Linked DNA regions of Homo sapiens: region 2 is linked to region 1. Evidence: fine-mapped expression QTL. Tissue or cell type: whole blood. Region 1 holds a variant in brackets; the other region holds the start of a gene. All regions are shown on one strand. Distances are from middle to middle.

What was found. PIP is the estimated chance that this variant, and not a neighbour inherited with it, causes the effect.
Region 2: it holds the start of STIM2, and the variant in region 1 is fine-mapped to the expression of STIM2 in whole blood (INTERVAL, PIP 0.97).

Annotation. Positions count from the first base shown.
Region 1 is chr4:26,955,576-26,963,575 of GRCh38, reverse strand. It overlaps STIM2 (stromal interaction molecule 2), which reads right to left. Exons shown (of 12, transcript NM_020860.4): 3 at 5,850-5,964. Among named protein-coding and RNA genes, the nearest start is that of STIM2, 99 kb to the right of the region's middle. The variant AG/G (reference allele first, on the strand shown) is at 4,893.
Region 2 is chr4:26,854,832-26,864,882 of GRCh38, reverse strand. It overlaps STIM2 (stromal interaction molecule 2), which reads right to left and starts at 4,042. Exons shown (of 12, transcript NM_020860.4): 1 at 3,514-4,042. The coding sequence starts at 3,664. It overlaps STIM2-AS1 (STIM2 antisense RNA 1), which reads left to right and starts at 4,284. Exons shown (of 2, transcript NR_134674.1): 1 at 4,284-4,373; 2 at 4,855-5,259. It also overlaps a transcript of TBC1D19 not described here. RefSeq lists silencers at 3,346-3,915, 3,926-4,295, 7,086-7,135, 7,156-7,445 and enhancers at 4,386-4,485, 7,566-7,665.

The sequences.
Region 1 (8,000 bases):
GTTGTCTCTCATACTTCCTTATTTTCTACTAATGAGTGTGATGCATATTGTAAATATACAAATAAATATTTTGTTGATGGATGCCACAAAGATAACACTACCTTATTAGATCTGCAAGGCTTACGTTTTAAGTTCCTCTTCTGATAATGCTAAACAATACACACTTTTCTATTTACAGTTTTTTTATTCTAGTCTCATTGCAACCAACATCATACACTTTAAAGAGCTGGTGGATTTTATCAACATTTAGAAATCCCTTTATACTTTCATACCCAGAAGAAAAATCTTATGGATATAAAGGTTCTAGATATTTTTAAAATATTTATAACTTCCCTTACTTTTAGGAATTTTGTATCAATGGCCAGAAATTTTTTTCTTTATATTTCCTTTTATAAAATACTTATATTTTCGCTGTCCTAAACAAAAAGAAAATACTCTTGGTCATTTAGTCTCTGGCTAGCCTTTAGGTACACTTGAAAATAACCATTATTAAGTGCCTGTATCTTTCTTCTCTCAGACTATTTCAGTTGCTTTAAATTTTTAACCCTTAAATAAATAAACATTATCTTAAATTTCCAAATGTCTATTCAATTTGTAAAGCCCAAAATTAAACAGTGACCTTAGGTAGGTTAAGACTTGTGCTGAACAGGATGGAAAGATTACCTCATGGTTGTCACATGTTATAATAACTAACCCAGTGAGTTTTCATTTTAAAAACAGTGTCTTACTTAATCAGTTTTTTATCTACTATAGTCTCTAAATCTTGTATATAACAAATATTTTCTATGTACAATTTCCTGCATTAGGTATCTGGCTACTATTTAAATACATTCAGTAATTCTCACAATGTATCCAGTTTATCAAAATCTATCTGAAATCTAACACTAGTTTTTAAATGGCTTTCATTTGCATTAGACAGCTGCCATGTGCAACTTGACCAAGCATTCTCTCTACACACAGACACAGACACACATACACACACACACACACACACACACACACACACACACACACACTGCATTAAAGTCATTGCTGAAATTCTATTTGAGGTCAGGATCAACTTCTGCATAAAACAATTTTACTTTCCCACAGTTGACAACATTCCAGAAAGATCTTGGGTACATTTCACTGTCCAGAGTTTGCACACAATGCTGGTAAATATATAGCTTAGTCTGTTCATTTTATCAATAAATATTGTGAGACTAAGTCAAAAACAGTACAAAACTTTGAATATGGCCGAACTTTTTAGTTTATTTCGCATTATTACTGAATGAGAGAATCAACCTTTACTAAGCGCCTAACAGGTGTTGCCATAAATTATGTCAAGTACTTTCACTACATTACTGATTTATGTCACACAAGAATTACATTTTATAAGTGAATTTTCAAAATCTGTCCAATGCCTCACTATTCATAAATAGAAGAGCCAGAATTTAAAGCTGTATAGTTTGAAAGCCTACATACTTTCTATAGCATGCCGCCTCCACTTTCACTTCTAGCAAATTTTCAGGTAACTAAAGAAGGAGGCTGGGTGTGGTGACTCCCACCTGTAATCCTAGCACTTTAGGAAGCCAAGACAGGAGGACTGCTTGAGGCCAGGAGCTGGAGACAAGACTTGGCAACATAGTAAGATCCCGTCCCAACAAAAAATAAAAAATAAGCCAGTCGTGGTGGTATACGCCCGTAGCCTCAACTACTCTAGTGGCTCACTTGAGCCCAGGAATTTGAGGCTGCAGTGAGGTATGATCACACCACTGCACTCCGGCCTGGGTCACAGAGCAAAACCTTGTCTATTTCAAGAAAAAAAAAAGATGCCATGGGGGAGCTACCATTTATGTTCTACTTCTTGTCTCCTTCTAGAACTCCTGGGTCAACCCGAACACCACCTTCTGTGTATAATAGTGAGCTAATCACTCCCTCCAGTGAGCTACCTCCATACCCTAAACTTACTGCTATTATTGTACATATCACCTTATAGTGTAATTATTTGTTTTCTTTGTCTTTCCTACCCAGCAATTTGCTCTGTATACACCAGATTCATGTTTAACTCATCATTAATCCCCAGGATCCAATGCAGTGCTTGTTTACCACCTAATAGATACAGTCTATTTTGCTGCACGTGCTGCTGTAACATGAATTACTTTATGTGCCACTAGTAATTAGGGGTCACATCAACGCAAAAGTCACATCATTTCACATGTGACTTTTCCAAACATGGTATCATTTCACATTGCCAAGTAATTATCAAATGGATGCAAGGTGTACTAACTGCCAATACAGCAAGCTACAAACAGGAGCTTCTACTTACCCTCCTTCTTTATCTTTGCTCAATTTGGCCAGAGCCTCTGTCTTGGAAATGCTTGTTGCTCGGTTCTCATCTTCATGCACTTTGCCCTTGTCTTCATTTTTTAGCAACCTCAACTCTACTAGAACCCCCCATCCATCCTTCTATAAAGTTATCTTCATTATTTTTTAATGTAAATTCCTATATCTACTATATAGTATGTATTGATTAGGAATTTGAAATTCTTTTTAGCGGTACAAGTATTTTTTTTTTTTTTGAGACGGAGTGCAGTAGCGCACTCCCAGGTTCAAGTGATTCTGCTGCCTAAGCCTCCCTAGTAGCTGGGATGACGGGAGCGCACCAACAAGCCTAGTTAATTTTTGTATTTTTAGTAGAGACAGGGTTTTGCCATGTTGGCCAGGCTGGTCTTGAACTCCTGACCTCAGGTGCTCTGCTCGCCTAGGCCTCCCAGAGTGCTGGATTACAGGCATGAGCCACTGCGCCTGGCCTGTACTAGTATTTTTATTAATACTGTTAATGCCATGGCTAATAAGTTGTACAGGTTTTGAGTAATCTCCTTCAGTCCCATTTTTCCCATAAACTGTCATTTTTAAGTCCAAAATTTTAAAAAACGTTAAGTTTTTAAGAAATGCACATAATGTCTAATAACAGAAATGCCTGTACTCAAAACATTTGACCAACTAAATTACTAAGCATCCAATACTTATCAGGCATTACTCTTTCATTCATTCAACAATTATTTACTGAATATCAAAGTGAATATTTACTACTGAATACAAAGTGAATGCACTGTGCTAGGCATGGGAGACACAACAATGATAAGCAAAGAATGAATGCATATATTTGCATGTGTATGTATGTGTGTGTGTGTTTTATATATACATATATATACATACACACATACACACAAACATACACACTTTCTGTATAAATACATATATACACACATACACACACTTTTGTATATATTCAAGTAAACAACCTTGAATTACATGTTATTGTTAGGGGTACATTCTAATCTCTACTTCAGCAGTTTTCAAACTTTTTCAGAAGAACTACTTTTCGTTTCTCCAGAGAAATTTTCAACAGAAACAAAATATAACAGATAAAAGCAGAGCCCGGCACACTCAACATGCCCTGTCCCTGGGACTCCTCCTGGAGCCTGAATGTTTTAAAAACCAGTGCTCTGGCAACAATACCCCACCCTTACATGACCCCTTTAATAAACAGAGTCTGACATGGGTTGAGAAAAATCAATTAGGTCATTATAAAGCTTCTAGTGAAAGTTTATTATCACTTGACTCCTCTCTCTTTCATCCCATACAGCTGCATTACTAGGAATACTGAGACTACTTCTGCCAGACTCTGTAAGGTTATATAGCCAACTGGGGCTTAGAGAAAAGGAAGCAGAGAGGAGATAACTTAGGCCAACTGTTTGAACTGAGGAAATCCCTCATTATCATAATGGTTAGATCTCAGATTAAGGTGAAAGCCTAGGGAAAAAGAGGTTTAAGACGTCATTCAACTTGAAAAGGCCTTAGCTTAAAAAAAAAAAAAATCAAGTAAACAAACATTCTCATAGATCACAAAAGATCTCACCAAAGTCACTAGGGTGGGAAAACAAAAAGGAGTTTAAGAATAGAGTCCTCTTTATTTAGGATACATTAATAAACAAAACATACAACATTCCCCTGCTCTATAACACTTACATTCTTGGGGGTGAGGCAAAGGGAGATATATATAATGAGCAAGTCAATTATATAGTATCTTAGAAGGTGATACACGATGGGGAAAAGGAAAGTGTGAAGCTGAGTAAGAAAGATCAAGAGTACCAGAAAAAAAAATGAGTAAAAGGGGAGGTTAGCAATGTTAAACAGGGTGGCCAGAGTGGTTTCACTGAGACCATAACCCTTGATAAAGACTTTAACAAAGGAGGTGATGGAGTTAGCCATGAGGATGTGTGCATTCCTGCATTTGTTGAATAGCCACAGGTCCAGAATGAATGGAGCACAGTGAGCGAGAGAGATGCATGGAATAGAAGAGGTAAGAGATGAGAGAGAGGTGGAAACAGAAGGCAGAACATGTAGAGGCTTACGGGTCTTTGTAAAGATTTGGACTATTACTCTGAGTCACTACAGAGTAATGAGCAGATCTAATTTACATTTTAGAGTACTCTGCTAGGTGAAGAAGAGACTACAGCAGAGCACAAACACAGGGAGATGAATTAGGCTGTCACAATTATCCAGGCAAGAGACGATGGTGGCTGAACAAAGGTAGTACAAGACCTAAGTGGTCAAATATTTTTTTCTTCATTCAAACACAGTCAAGTGGGTTCCAATCAATGTATTACATATTTTAATCCTTAAAAAAATACTAATAGCAATAGACTCTGTAATGGATCTCCACCTCCCTTCTTAGTATCTATGGATTGCTGAGCTATGTCGTGTCAATAAAATAAGTTTGTTGCTGAGTTCCCCACCATTTTCACTTTTCCTCATGAAACTGATATTTGTTTATTTCTATTCCTATCCGAGCTCATGTTATTTTAAAATGGTGTAGGGAAGAGAAATGGAGAGGTTTTTTTAAA[AG/G]TCTATATATTTTTCTTTTAAGTGCATAATTGTTTTCTTCTTTCTTCCCCAACCCAAGTGTATTTCAACAGAAACACATGTAAGCAAGCTATCTACCATCTTCTACACTAAGAAAAATACTGAGCATTGGTGGGACAGTTTTATTTATTTTCCCACTTCTAAATGTTATCATAATGACTCAAGTAAACTTTATTATTTCTTTACACTCTTAATTGGTAATCTGTCCCTTTAATTTCGTTTAATTTTTCAGAGAAAAATATATGCTTACAATATAATTGCTGACTTTTATGAAAGAACAGAAGCATTAGAAAGAAGGAATTTTAGTTGAGTTACTGAAAACAAAATGTAAGTTTAGGGGACTTGTAAAATTTTTTTAATTTTAGTAACTTCCTAGTATATGGAACCAAGTTGAGATTTTTAGATCACAGACTTTTCCTGTACTAAACAATTACTGTCCATAATACACCTTGAGAACTTAACAGTAGAAAGGGAATAAAATACCAATTATCCAATTTTATCATACACCTATTACGAGACATCATAAAGGATTTACTTAAGAAAAAGCTTAACAGTAATAGCCTCCTAAAAACATTAGGAACTATTCTCCACAACTAAAAGGAAAACTTTGTGTTTCCATATGTTTATTTGCTAAACCTTTTATAATAATGTCACGTAATAGCTGAAATAATGCTTTACAACTTTAGGCTCTCAGACATGCATTATCTTATTTATTCTACTATAATTATATGAGAACAGCCTGATGCTTAATGACTCTCAGAAAGATAAAAATCATCTATCAAAAACAAGAAGGGAAAATTATTTACTAAAATATAAATATCCTCACAGAAATGTTATTTTGATTTTTTTGGTAAAAGCATACTATAAGTGAGTTGAGAACAACTAAGCAGGCTAGATGTGCAGAAGGGGAGGGGGCCAGATCACAAAGGCAGTCTTACCTTCTGATGTTTTCCATCGTTTCCATAAATCCTCAATCGTTATATGTTTATCTTCTCTGTGCAGATGGCTGTGTTTATTAGTAGCATCTTTATATTTCATATCTTCTCTGATGAACTATAGAAGAGAAAACATTAAGTTAAATATAAATTCATTACCTTAGTCTTGACAACTAGAGAAAAAGATGAAATCTGATATCCAGTGGGTGACTATTTTCAAACAGTAACTGGCAAATTTTTGGTATTGTAGTCACATTATTCTTACATGTTTGTAAAATGTATTTAATGAAATGTCTTCTGCTACTAATCGTAACGCCACCACCACCAGCAACAGCAGTAGAAGTACTTAGTCAATGTTTATTATTTACCGGGTATTATTCTAAGTTATATAACAAATAGGTGTATACAGTCACCCCCTCCTTATCTGTGGGTTCAGTATTCGTGGGATTGAAAATATTTGGGGGAAAATGGATGGCTGTGTCTGTACTGAACAGGTACAGAGTTTTAAAAATCATTATTCCCTAAACAATATATTACAACAACTATTTACATAGCATTTACACTGTATTAAGTACTGTAAGTAATCTAGAAACAATTTATATGGGAGGATGTCTGTAGGTTATATCCAAATGCTATATCATTTTTATATAAGGGATTTGAGTATCCATGAATTTTGGTATCCGCAGGGGAAGAGGGAGTCCTGAAACTAATCCCCCACAGACACCAAGGGACCACTGTATATCTGTCCATACAGAGAAAGTCATTTACCTTTACGACAGTCCTATAAGGAAAGCATTATTTATCTTCATTCAATAGATGAGAAACCAAGGCCCAAAGAGGCTAAGTAATTTGCCCAAGGTTGAAAAAATAATGAATATCGAGCTGAAATTCCAACGCAAGCCATTTGGTTATATTCAACAGCATAATATACTGCCTCAATATCACTGCATTCATTTTTACCAAATACTTGGTGACAGCGATGTTTCAAAACATAATAAATAATAATCTTCTCAATTACTGCATCATATTTCTATGTTCTTCTGCCTTTTTTAAGCTACTACTTTTAATTCAAAGACATTTGATTATGGTGTTTAGAGCTAAAGTATACTTTACAAAACTGAAGTATACCTTCTATTAATCTTACTTTGAAATATAGAGAGAGATAGGCTGAGGCAGGAGAATTGCTTGAGCCCAGGAGTTTGAGGCTGCAGTGAGCTATGATTGCACCACTGCACTCCAACCTGGGCAACAAGGCAAGAACCTGTCTCTTAAAAAAAAAAAAAAAAGGCATTGAAATCATCTTTGCTAAAAACTAACCTGTTCTATATTACTTTTTAAACCATTTCCCATTGTCTAACAATAAAAAGCAAACTCCATTTTATGGCTTAATACCACTTATTAATCTTATCTCTGAGAATCTTTTAGGCCTTATCTCTTGATACTTTGCTCATATATGTACCCATTACTCTAATTATGTGAAACTAATAGTTTTTAAATTGTTTATGCTTTTTCTACCTCAATATTTTTTATTTTTCTTGTCTCGTTATTTTATATGGTATCTTTTTTTTCTATTGTTCCAAAACTATAAGATCACATAAAAGATTTCAGAAGTCCACAATGCAGAAACTGAAAATTCCCCCACAGCTACAAATGCCAGAGGCATATTTTTCTGACTTTTACACTGGCAATGAACATCACCTTCAGACAAAACACCAAATTCTGCCTGAGTAGAGTTGCTGTCTACTGAAACTAAAAAAGAAAATTTTAACAATTGTATAATATTGAGCAAATCATTTAACTTTTCTGAGGCTCAACAACCTTGGGAGCAAAATAAAGAAACAATGTTCTAGGATCAACAACACTGTTGAACATGTGGTCATTCAGCAGAGTAGTGTCAGCATTATGGCAATTAGAAAACACTTCCACAGCAACTGGGCCGAGCATATGATAAATATGCTCACCTTGTCCACCCTGTACATATATACTGGAAATTAAACATCTGGTCTTTCGTCATCAAAAGTTTGAAAAGTACTAAACTAAAAAAATCTATGTAATCTGTTGTCTGCTCTAAATAGTGCCTTACTCCTTTTTACTAAATGCTGCCTTAAGTTATATTTAAGGGGGCCTGCCTGAATGCTACAAGTCCTCCTGTCA
Region 2 (10,051 bases), 100 kb after region 1:
GACAATCATGCTAATTTGAGGTATTTCCATCTAAATTAATGAAAGCCCCACAACACAGATGTGTGTAACAGTACTGGGTAAAGTGGCCATTCTAAATGCTATTATATGTGGTATTATATGTTGAACTAAGAATATATTAAATCTTAATTGAGATTTTAATACTTCCAAGAAACATGTTTTTATATATGTTATTTCTAATAACATGCCAAATCAGTGAAATGGTATTACAGTTAAGATAAAACCTTCACATAGGCACTAAAGAATGTTACTTTAATTCATTCTTTAAAAGGATAGAGGCAAATATTTTCAGTTAAAATTTGTTCCCAAAAATTCTGAAACAATTCCGTAAGAAATAATGTAATGTTTCAATTATTCGGCATTTTTTTGTTTGTTTGTTTCCCTTTCATAAGCTATTTCTCAGGGACCCTATCTGGATGAGATCGGTCACTCCCTACCAGGATCAATTCATCAACTCTAAATCTGTTAGACAAAGAAGGAAAAAAAAAACTATTGTTTTGAGTTATTAAAGCACTGCTTTAGAATACAATCACCAAGCTCTCAGTCACCTATCCCTAACTTGCTTTAAATTTCAATCACTTTCAAAGTAAGTGCCCTAAATATATAAGCGCTGTATATGTAATTTAAAACCCTTACTATATAATGTTATGAATATTGGTTCTGTCTCACCAAAAACATTTGCACACTGAATTCTGAAAAGGTAATATTTAAAAAGGAAAAGAAAATATAAACCTGTATTCATTATGACAATGGGTCTGTTTATTTGGATGATTTGTATAGTTTTGAGCAATAACAGTTTATTTGAGCAAATAAACACAGGATAATTTAAAGGCAATTTACTCTTAAAGTACACTAAATCCCTAAAGTAAAACACTTGAGAGGCAAGCTGCAGTGAAAAAGAATGTTTTATACATTTTATTAGTCAAAGGCTAACTCTTAGGGAGCTTCTAAAGGTAAGTATTAAAAATGCCAATCTCGAGAAGAAAACAGAAAAGTGATTTTGGCTGTCATTTTGCAGAGCTATTGAGAATACTCACAGCTAAATCACAACTTTAATCAGGAGACAAAGAGACCAATTCTTCTCTCAGAATGCTTTCAAAAATTTTCAATTTTCAAAATTCACGTGACGTTTAGTTCTCTTATTACTGATGCTCTACTCCATCTCTATCCATTAACGCTGCCTACAATATGATACCACACCACAGTATTTTGTAAATTCAGTCTACGGTTTTACTTCCTGAAGTGTACACTAATGCTAATAAATTAGGTTCTAGGCTTTGCATAACATTTACAAATAGAACCATAAAAGAAAGCACTATTCATACACTCTTAAGAATGGGAAAGAGCCCTATAGAGGCCATATAGTTCAAAGAAATTTTCAATATTTTCTAACTTCATCATAGATTTTCAGTTTACCTTTACCAAGATATGGGTGCTATTGACTGTATTTACATAAACTTATTAAAATAACAATTTAATTTGTATATTGTGTAGTTTTATGATTTAAACTTTAAGTGGAAACGTTTAACTTGTTAAAAATCAATATTCTGACAAAAGGAAAGTAAAAGAACGTTAGAAATAATTCCAGGGTATTCTTCTAGCAAACTTATTTTAAAGCCCTATGGCACAAACTCATTTTGTGTGATACATCGGATTTTTTTCCAATAAGAATCACCTTTTTCCCCCATGCCTTAAATAAGTATAGAGAAATTTAAGTCTTAAAAGGGATTGTAAATGGCTTATTAAAATTCCATCTGACCAATTTTCTTGATGTGATCTACACAGTATAAAATATACTTATTAGCAGTCAATAAATACTAAATTTTCTGAATTGCTTGCCTTTTTACCAATTACTTTTTCACAGAGCATTAGCCAATTATGTATTAACCACATTTTTCTGCTCGAGAAACCTAGAACCACTTATACCTTCTAGAAGCCTAAATATTCCTGCTCCTTCCCTTCCTGCATGAGGCATTAAATCTTCAAATTATAGTCTTATTTATCAACTTTCCTAATAATCACTATTCTTCACTATACTGTTACTTGCCACATTTTTATTTGGAGAATAAATACTATTCAAGCATAAAGCTGTCTGACCTATCTTCTCACTCAAACTGTACTATGCTCCTAATACTGATTATTCTATAATCACTTTATCCCAGTTACCCAATTGGTAGGTTTGATGTATCAAGTTCCATTTAATAGGGCTTGATATGCTTCAGGGTAAAGTTAAACATGCTGACCATTATGTTCTATACTCTACATCCTCCAAAGCTTTTAAAGTTTACCAACATCCTTCTTCTCTCTAGAATAGTAAATATCCTATCATAGAAATCAGAGAAACTGCTTGGCTTTAAAGAATACAGTTCCTGAGCACTTGTCAGAGAAGCTGTTAGTAACTTCCAGACGCCCGCAGGACTATCATTTTGGTTAAATTAATCACGGGTCATCTTCTGCCACTTTAAACTTTTTAGTCTTACAATTATTGTAGGAAATCTACAGATCTACTTTAAAAATAAGTGAAATACTAAAAAAAAAAAAAAAAACCATTATTTTAGCTCCATTACTTTTCCCAAAGAAATCATTTCAGGGTCCTTATATAATAACTTTTACTTAAACCACAACTGATCAGTTGTACATAACACCGGAAGGCTTTAAAAAGGATACAATTCTGCACTTAACCTTACAAAACACGTTTCCAAGTTTTCAATTATGAGATCGTTCTATATATTAAAAAAAAGGTGCTAGTGCAGTCTATCAGAACTGTGCTGCCAGCTGCAAGCCCCGAGTATGCTGCACTTTGCAAATTTTAGGTATAATTTCTGGTTACCTGCTGAGGTTTCTACACCCTTTGTCACCCAGTGATGCTCCCACCACCAAACACTTTCCATCACCACTTAAAACGGCCTCCTTCCACCCCGCAAAAAATGCACTGTAAACTTAGGCATTTCTGCATACTAACACGGAACCACTAATATCACTAGGTATTATGGCTCTCAAAGAATCCCCTTTAGCAGGCTCCCCTGGGACGCTGTGCTCAAGCGGAGCTTTGAACCGGTGAGACTCGCTGCCAGCTGCCTTTGCAAAAGCAGCACCAGAGGTAGACTCAATACCGCAATGCTGCTGCTGACTTTTTCTAGCAGCCTCAAAAAAAAAAAAAAAAAAAAAATCAGCCCAGTCCCCTGCAGACCCTGCTGGCACTTCTGCAGCACGAAAGAGAAACCACCGCATTGCTCAGCTTGGAAGATCGGAGAGCCCGACTGAAGGGAGGGGAATCAGTGCCGTCGAGAGGCTCGGCGAGGGCGGGGTGTCGGGGTGAAAAGGAAAGACGTCCGGAGTGCAGGGGACCGCGACGAAGCAGCAGGCAGGGCTCCGCATCGCGCCCTGGCCGGAGCCGCGGAATAGCGGACGTCCGGCGGAGATGCTGACCTCTGCACGGGTTGGGGGTCCCATCGCTGCCGGCCGAGCCCCGCCCGCCGCCCCCCGGCCCCTCACCTGTCATGAGCGCCGGGCTATCGCCGGCCGCCGCGGCGGGAGAGGAGGCGGCAGTTGCGGCAGAGCCAGTCGCCCGCCGCCCGCGGAGGTGCCGGGGCACAAGCTCGCATCCGTCCGCCGCTCCGGCTACCAGCAGCCCGAGCACCAGCAACGCAGCCCAGCGCCGCCGCCGCAGCAGCCAGCCCCACGCTGGGCCAGGAGTCGAGGCGGGATGAAGGCGCCGAGGAGAAGCCGGGTGAAAGCGCAGCGGCGCCCCGGCCGCCTGCAGCTCGCCGGCTCCGCGAGGCGCCACCACCGCCGCCGGCGACTCCTCCGGCCGCCCCCGCCGCCTCAGACACGGGCTCCCGCCGGGCGCCAGCCTGGTCCCATCGGCACCGGCGGCCTCCGGAGCTCTGATCCCGGCTGCGTTCATTGGTTCCGGTTATTTAAAAAAAAAAAAAAAAAAGGTGGGGGGTAGAAAGGTACGGCGTCTTCAGGCGGTGCACGACACCCGCGCTGCTGCTGCGGCGAGACCGGGATCCGCTGCTCTGGCGCCGCCAAACACCAACCCCAGCTCCCGCGCCGCCGCCGCCGCGGCGCATCCCCCCGCCCCCTCCGGCCCGCGCTGGTCGTAGTACCACGCTCCGCCGGGACGCCTCCCTCCCCTCGCACATTCGCTCGCATACCAATCCCCCGCCTCCCTCAGGCTCTCCACGGCGCAGGCGCGGCGCTGCTGTACTGCGCGTGCGCGGCATCCCAGCCCCGCCCCGGAGGCGTTCCTAGACGGACGGTAGTACCGTGGGGCGGCTGATAACGCTTTAGCGAGCCGCGAAGATAGGAGGCGGGGAAGAAGGGGGACGTGTACCTCTCCCTCATTCACGGTACCACCGCGAGGGGGAGTGGGGGGCTACAAGGGGACGGAGAGAAGAGTCCAGACGTCCCACATCCTGAGGGCGAGTTTCAGCCTCGTAGAGGGCAGCGAAAGTAATTGCATGGATCAGGAAAATCTTGCAATCGGAAAACAGCAGCGTCCCCGTAATTTCAATATAGGTGGGGCTTACAAGTGGCTGGCTGTTTAGACGCGGTTAGCATAGCTTAGCGTTTTATTTACTTGCCAAACATTTCACAAAGCGCGTGCTATGTGTGAGTGTACCAGGCATTGCTCTAACCGTTTTACACATTTACATGCTATAACTCCAAAATTATCGTTACCCCCTTTTACGAATGAAGAGACTAAGACCTAGAAATGTGAAGTAAGTTGTCCCCAATATCCCACAGCTAATTCATGGGAAATGAGCGAGATTTAGCAGCCACTGAAAAGGCCTATTTAAGAGAATTTACTTTAGCCTCTGACTCTCCTAGGTACATTTACCTGAACTCATCACCTTCCCACCCCCATCCCATCGACTCTGTGCTGTATCCTGAACCGGCTGACAGAACAATGATGTAGACTTGACTTGTTTTCGCCAACCTGGAATGAAGCAAAGCTCTTGTGCACCCAAGATCTGCTCTCTGTTGTAAATCCTGTTCAGACCTGGTCTAATTGGTTTGAATAAATAAAGAACCGGAATCTTTCTCATCCAAACTAGTTGCCAGCATATTTTTAAGGCCACCTCCCTTCAAATTTAAAAGGAAGTGTTGAATGTACTGTCACTATAAATTAAAAGCCCTGGAAATTCACACGCAAGGAGGCATTCTTTCTCCCAGGGGCACAAAATTGTTTAAAATTTGCAGATAGGGTTATTAAACACGAAGATCCTTTTGCTATTGGGTTTTGTTGGTTTCATTCTGCTTATTGGTTTGTTTGCTTGCTTTCTCAAGCCAAGAAGATACTCAAATTACATTCTCCTAAAGTATTTCTTAGGTAGCCTGGCCAAGATAACCACAAATATCGTTTATTGTGGAAGGGCAGATGCACACTTTAGAAAAGAATCAAGGATGTCTTTGAGGCTAAGTCAATCTATCAACAGTTATTTCTCAGCAGACTTCTTGTGGGCATAGTGTTCAGGTGGCAATTCTTTATAGGGCAACCGGGAGATTATATTTCCCCTGCTGAAAGGCACAGCGATGAAGTCACACCAGAGTGCTGAGTGCCCACCAGAGAAGATAATTCTGCTAGGGGACCAGAACAATATAAATAACAAGCTTGTTCCTGCTCTCCAGGAGGCATTTCATTTATTAAATGTTTACTGAGTACCTAGTATGTGCCAGGCAGAGTACTGAGTGGTGAGGGTTAGGCAAGAGAGACACTTGAAAAAGGCAATTAAGTCAGCAGTCAGGGCTATGAGATAAACAGCACAGTCCCATGACTAAGGCATCTTACAATCTTTTTAAGGAGATAAAATGTACACCCATTAAACAATTAGAGGCTAATACAAAGTAGTAATCAGTTGCTAAATGGTGTAGTGCAAACTGTTACAGTAGTAACAGTATAAAACCACGAACAAATTAACAAATCACAGGGGCCAGGATTCTTTAAACAAAGATGATTTAGTATTTTTTTTTCTTCTTTTAAAGATAGGGAGGGTATTGACATTGAGAGTGTATTGGACTGGAGTTTTAAGTGTTTATTCCTCTCACTACTGGAACCGGAAAGGAACTAGGGATCCGGCAAGCACTCAAAAGACCAAGGCCAGGAAGGCCAGGGGCCAGGAATAAACCCTCCACCGCAGATCATCTTTGCCACAGATATAGAACTTTCCAGCTGTTAAATGAATAGCCGGAATGAACCTTGCTGAACAGAGAGAGGTACGTGTCACTGTGCATCACAGCATAAACCTAAGAACAGAAAGGAGAAAATCCATTCCTTGGCAAGAAAAGCCCAACCCTAGAATTATATATGCTTCTATTTGCAAGCCAAACATAAACACAAGACTCCAAATGAGGCAATCGCTTACCTTTCTCCCCAGGTTTCCTTTCCCACCTCCACGCTTTTGTTTTCCCTTTCCCTTCCCTTGTTCTCACCACCCCAAAGCTTTCTCTCCTTCCCTGTCGCCAAATCCCATTCAAAAGCTACCCTGAGGCCCTTTTCCTTGGCACTTACCCGACTCCTACAGCCAGCCTATACCTCTCAATGTCCAAACCTCATCATATGCCTTTTTTTTTTTTCAGAACGTCTTCACTGTCCCATTTTCACCAAATCATGACTTCAAACACCTGATGGGCAGCATTGAGCTCTAGAATCAGGCAAACCTGAAAGAAATAGCAATTCCACCACTTTTCAGCTGTGTTACGTGCAGACAGGTTAATCTGTCCTCAGTTTCCCCACTTTTAAATTGGGGATCCAACCATGCCCGCCCCACAAGGTTGTTAGCGGCGGCGGGAGAATAAACAGGGAAAGCCCTTGCGCGGAGCCCGGCACACAGGTGCGTTGCCATCCCTTGGGGAGAACTGGCTCTGGGCGTGCATTCTAAGCGTGTTCTTGGCTTAGGATAAACGCATCGCACTTTGCCCATGTTGTTTGATTGCATTTTCTTGCAAATCCCAAACTACTGGGCGCGCCCTGCACAGAGGCACAGCAGGATCCGTGCACCGGCTCCTCCCCATCCCAGAGGCAAGCCTGCCCTTCCCAAATGTCGGGCTCCCTATCTCCCTCTTCTCCCCTCGCTCCCGCACAGCCCACAGCGCGCCGCCAGCTCGGACTCGGAGAACCGGTTCCCGACTGGCGGGCGCGGCAGGGCGCCTGCGCCACCGCAGCCCCGCGCATGCCCGCTGCCTCCTGCCGGCTTCCCCCAGGTGCGCGAGTTCTCAAGCTGCTGGGTTCCGGGACGCCGCGCGCCGCTGCCCGCCCGGCTTCCGGCTCCCACTCTGTGGGCGGGGCGCCCGGCAGCCGCGAGATGGCGTCACCGCGTGGGCGGGCGCGGCGGGCTGTCAGTGGGGAGGGTGGTGGACGTGGGGCGGTAGTAGGGGTGGAGGTATAGAAGTGGGGAATTCCGGCGCCTCGCCCTCCCACTGATCTTCTCCTTCCCGTCTTTGACTTCCCTGCGTGGCCCTGGAATGTCGGGACAGACCCAGCAGGGTGGTCCAGCCTGGTTCGCTTGCTCTTGATGGTGAAGCCCCTCAGAGAGCTGCCTTCGGTGGAAACGCTGTTAGGTATCGAGTTTTCCCGCTGACTCTCGACAAACGCTAACAAGGGACTCGAGGTGCTGAGAACTTTGGAAACACCTCTAAAGTGATATAGACAATGTGATGGCTCCATTCGATCAATGAAGCCCTAGCATAAAAATGGGGTCCTCAAATTGTTTAATAAAGCACTAGGAATAGAAGTGACACCGTGGAAGTAACTCATTAGCAAGACCCTTCCTCCCTAAACCCAATAAAACATGAGATAGTCCTCAAGTGGTGTAGTGAAGGTGGAAAATTTTATTGCTGCTTTCTCTGGGAGCAGAGGAAGGAAGTCTTTTTAAGTGTCTTGCATCCAGGATAGGGAGTTAAAAACTCTAGATTTAACTAACATAGTTTTTTAAAAGCCGCTCAACAGAAGCGAGTTAACTTTGCCCGCTAAAGCCCGGTGCAATCAGAGGGCGTGTGGGGTGAGTCGTTTATATTATTAAATAGGATGTGTTTGCTCTATACTGCTTAATTTGAGGTGTTACATGAATATTATTGATCACATGATAACTGACAGATGCTGAAGCAGCAGGAATGTTGACATTTTCCACAAAAAGAGGACTAGAATTGTGATGGAGCTAAAGTAAAGATCATAACAATTGAAAATGGTGAGAAAATGATGGCTATTATCAAAAAGACAAATAAGTGTTGATGAGGATGTGGAGAAAAGGAAACCCTGGTATACTGTTAGTGGAAATGTAAATTAGTATACCCATTTTGGAAAGTAGTATGGAGGTTCCTAAAAAACTAGGAATAGAATTATCATATGATCCAGCAATCCCACTTCTGAGTATATATCCAAAGGAATGGAAATCAGTATGTCAATGAGATATCTGCACTCTCATGTTCATTTCAGCATTATTTACAATAGCCAAGATATGGAAGCAAACTAAATGTCCATCAACAGATGAATGGATAAGGAAAATAGGGTATATATACACACAGTGGAATACTATAGAGCCTTAAAAAAGAAGGAAATTCTTCATTCACTGCAACATGGGTGGAACTGGAGGACATTAGGCTAAGTGAAATAAGCCAGGCGTAGAAAAACAAACATTGTATGACCCCACATATGTGGAATCTAAAAAAAAGTTCATCTCATAGAAACAGTATAAAGGTGATTACCAGAGGCTGGTAAGTGTGAATGGGGCGAGGGATGGGGAAAGGGAAGATGCTGACCAAAGGGTATAAGGTTACTGTTAGACTGGAGGAATATGTTTGAGTGATCTATTGTACTTCACAATAACCACAGTTAATGTCTATTTCAAAATTGCTAAAAAGATAGATTTTTAACATTGTCACTACAAAAAAGGTTAAGTCAGTGAGATAATAGATATGTTAGCTCAGTTGAATTGTTCTACAATGTACATATAGCTCAAAACATTGTACTCCATAAATATACACAATATTTGTCAATTAAAAATTAATTTTAAAAACATTCATAATGTCTGTGAATTATGAGGCAGGAAGCTGCCAAGGGGTTCCCTACAGCACTTGAAGAGATTATCTAAAAAGGAATTACCTACTTTCAATCTTAAAGTATACAAAACACCTACTTTAGAAAAAGATGCCACAGAAACATATATCAGCAAGGAGAAGAAAAGTGGGCCTGTTTAAAAGCTTCAAAGGGCTGCCCACCTCCCTCTTCTTTGTGGAAAATCCATCCAGGGACTGGAAATTTCAACTCCTTAAGTTTGAATGTATAAAAAAAATGGCCATAAGTACACCCAAGTACACCCATCTGAAACGAAAACCCTTCGTAAGGTGAGGAACTCCGGTATTTTTGTTCCAGTAAAACCAGGTCCTTATGCTAATACCTAGATAGAGGGTTGTTGTAAAGTAAAAATGATTGTAAAGCTGCCTGGTGCATAGTTAGCTATTATTATTTAAACCCTTAAGGTATGAAAAACAAGAGCTCGTTTTGAGTTGAATTGTGCAAAAAAGGAAAGTAGAAAAAAAGAATACACGAACAATCTACAAGAGCACATACAACAAAGGTACGTACACAGAAGTCTTTACAGGGCCATATGCCTAAAGTGACAGTCAAAAGTTCTCTAGAAAATAGGACCCGATGCAAAGGCCCATATAACAGTTCCTTAGAGAGTAGGATTTCCTTCAACAATTCCTTCAACCCCAGTGAAGCAGAAGTAAGGGGAAGGGAGACATGAGCCACGCACAGAAGGAGGCAGAAAAATATCCAGGTGATGCACCACTGAGCTGGCTGCTCAGTCTCTCACGATGCCTCCATAGTGGAGACCACTCTGTTTTGGAACAGTGCGAGAAGAAGGGAGAAAAATGGAACTTTTGGCTCCCATCAGTCAAAGGTTTCTGCAGGAGATGCAAACTCGCCCGCACTTTTCAGTCATGCCACCTGCCGCTCCAGGCAGCTGCCAGAGAAGCCAGATCCCTGAACAGCAGTGGCATTATCCATGCATGAGCTAAGCCAGCA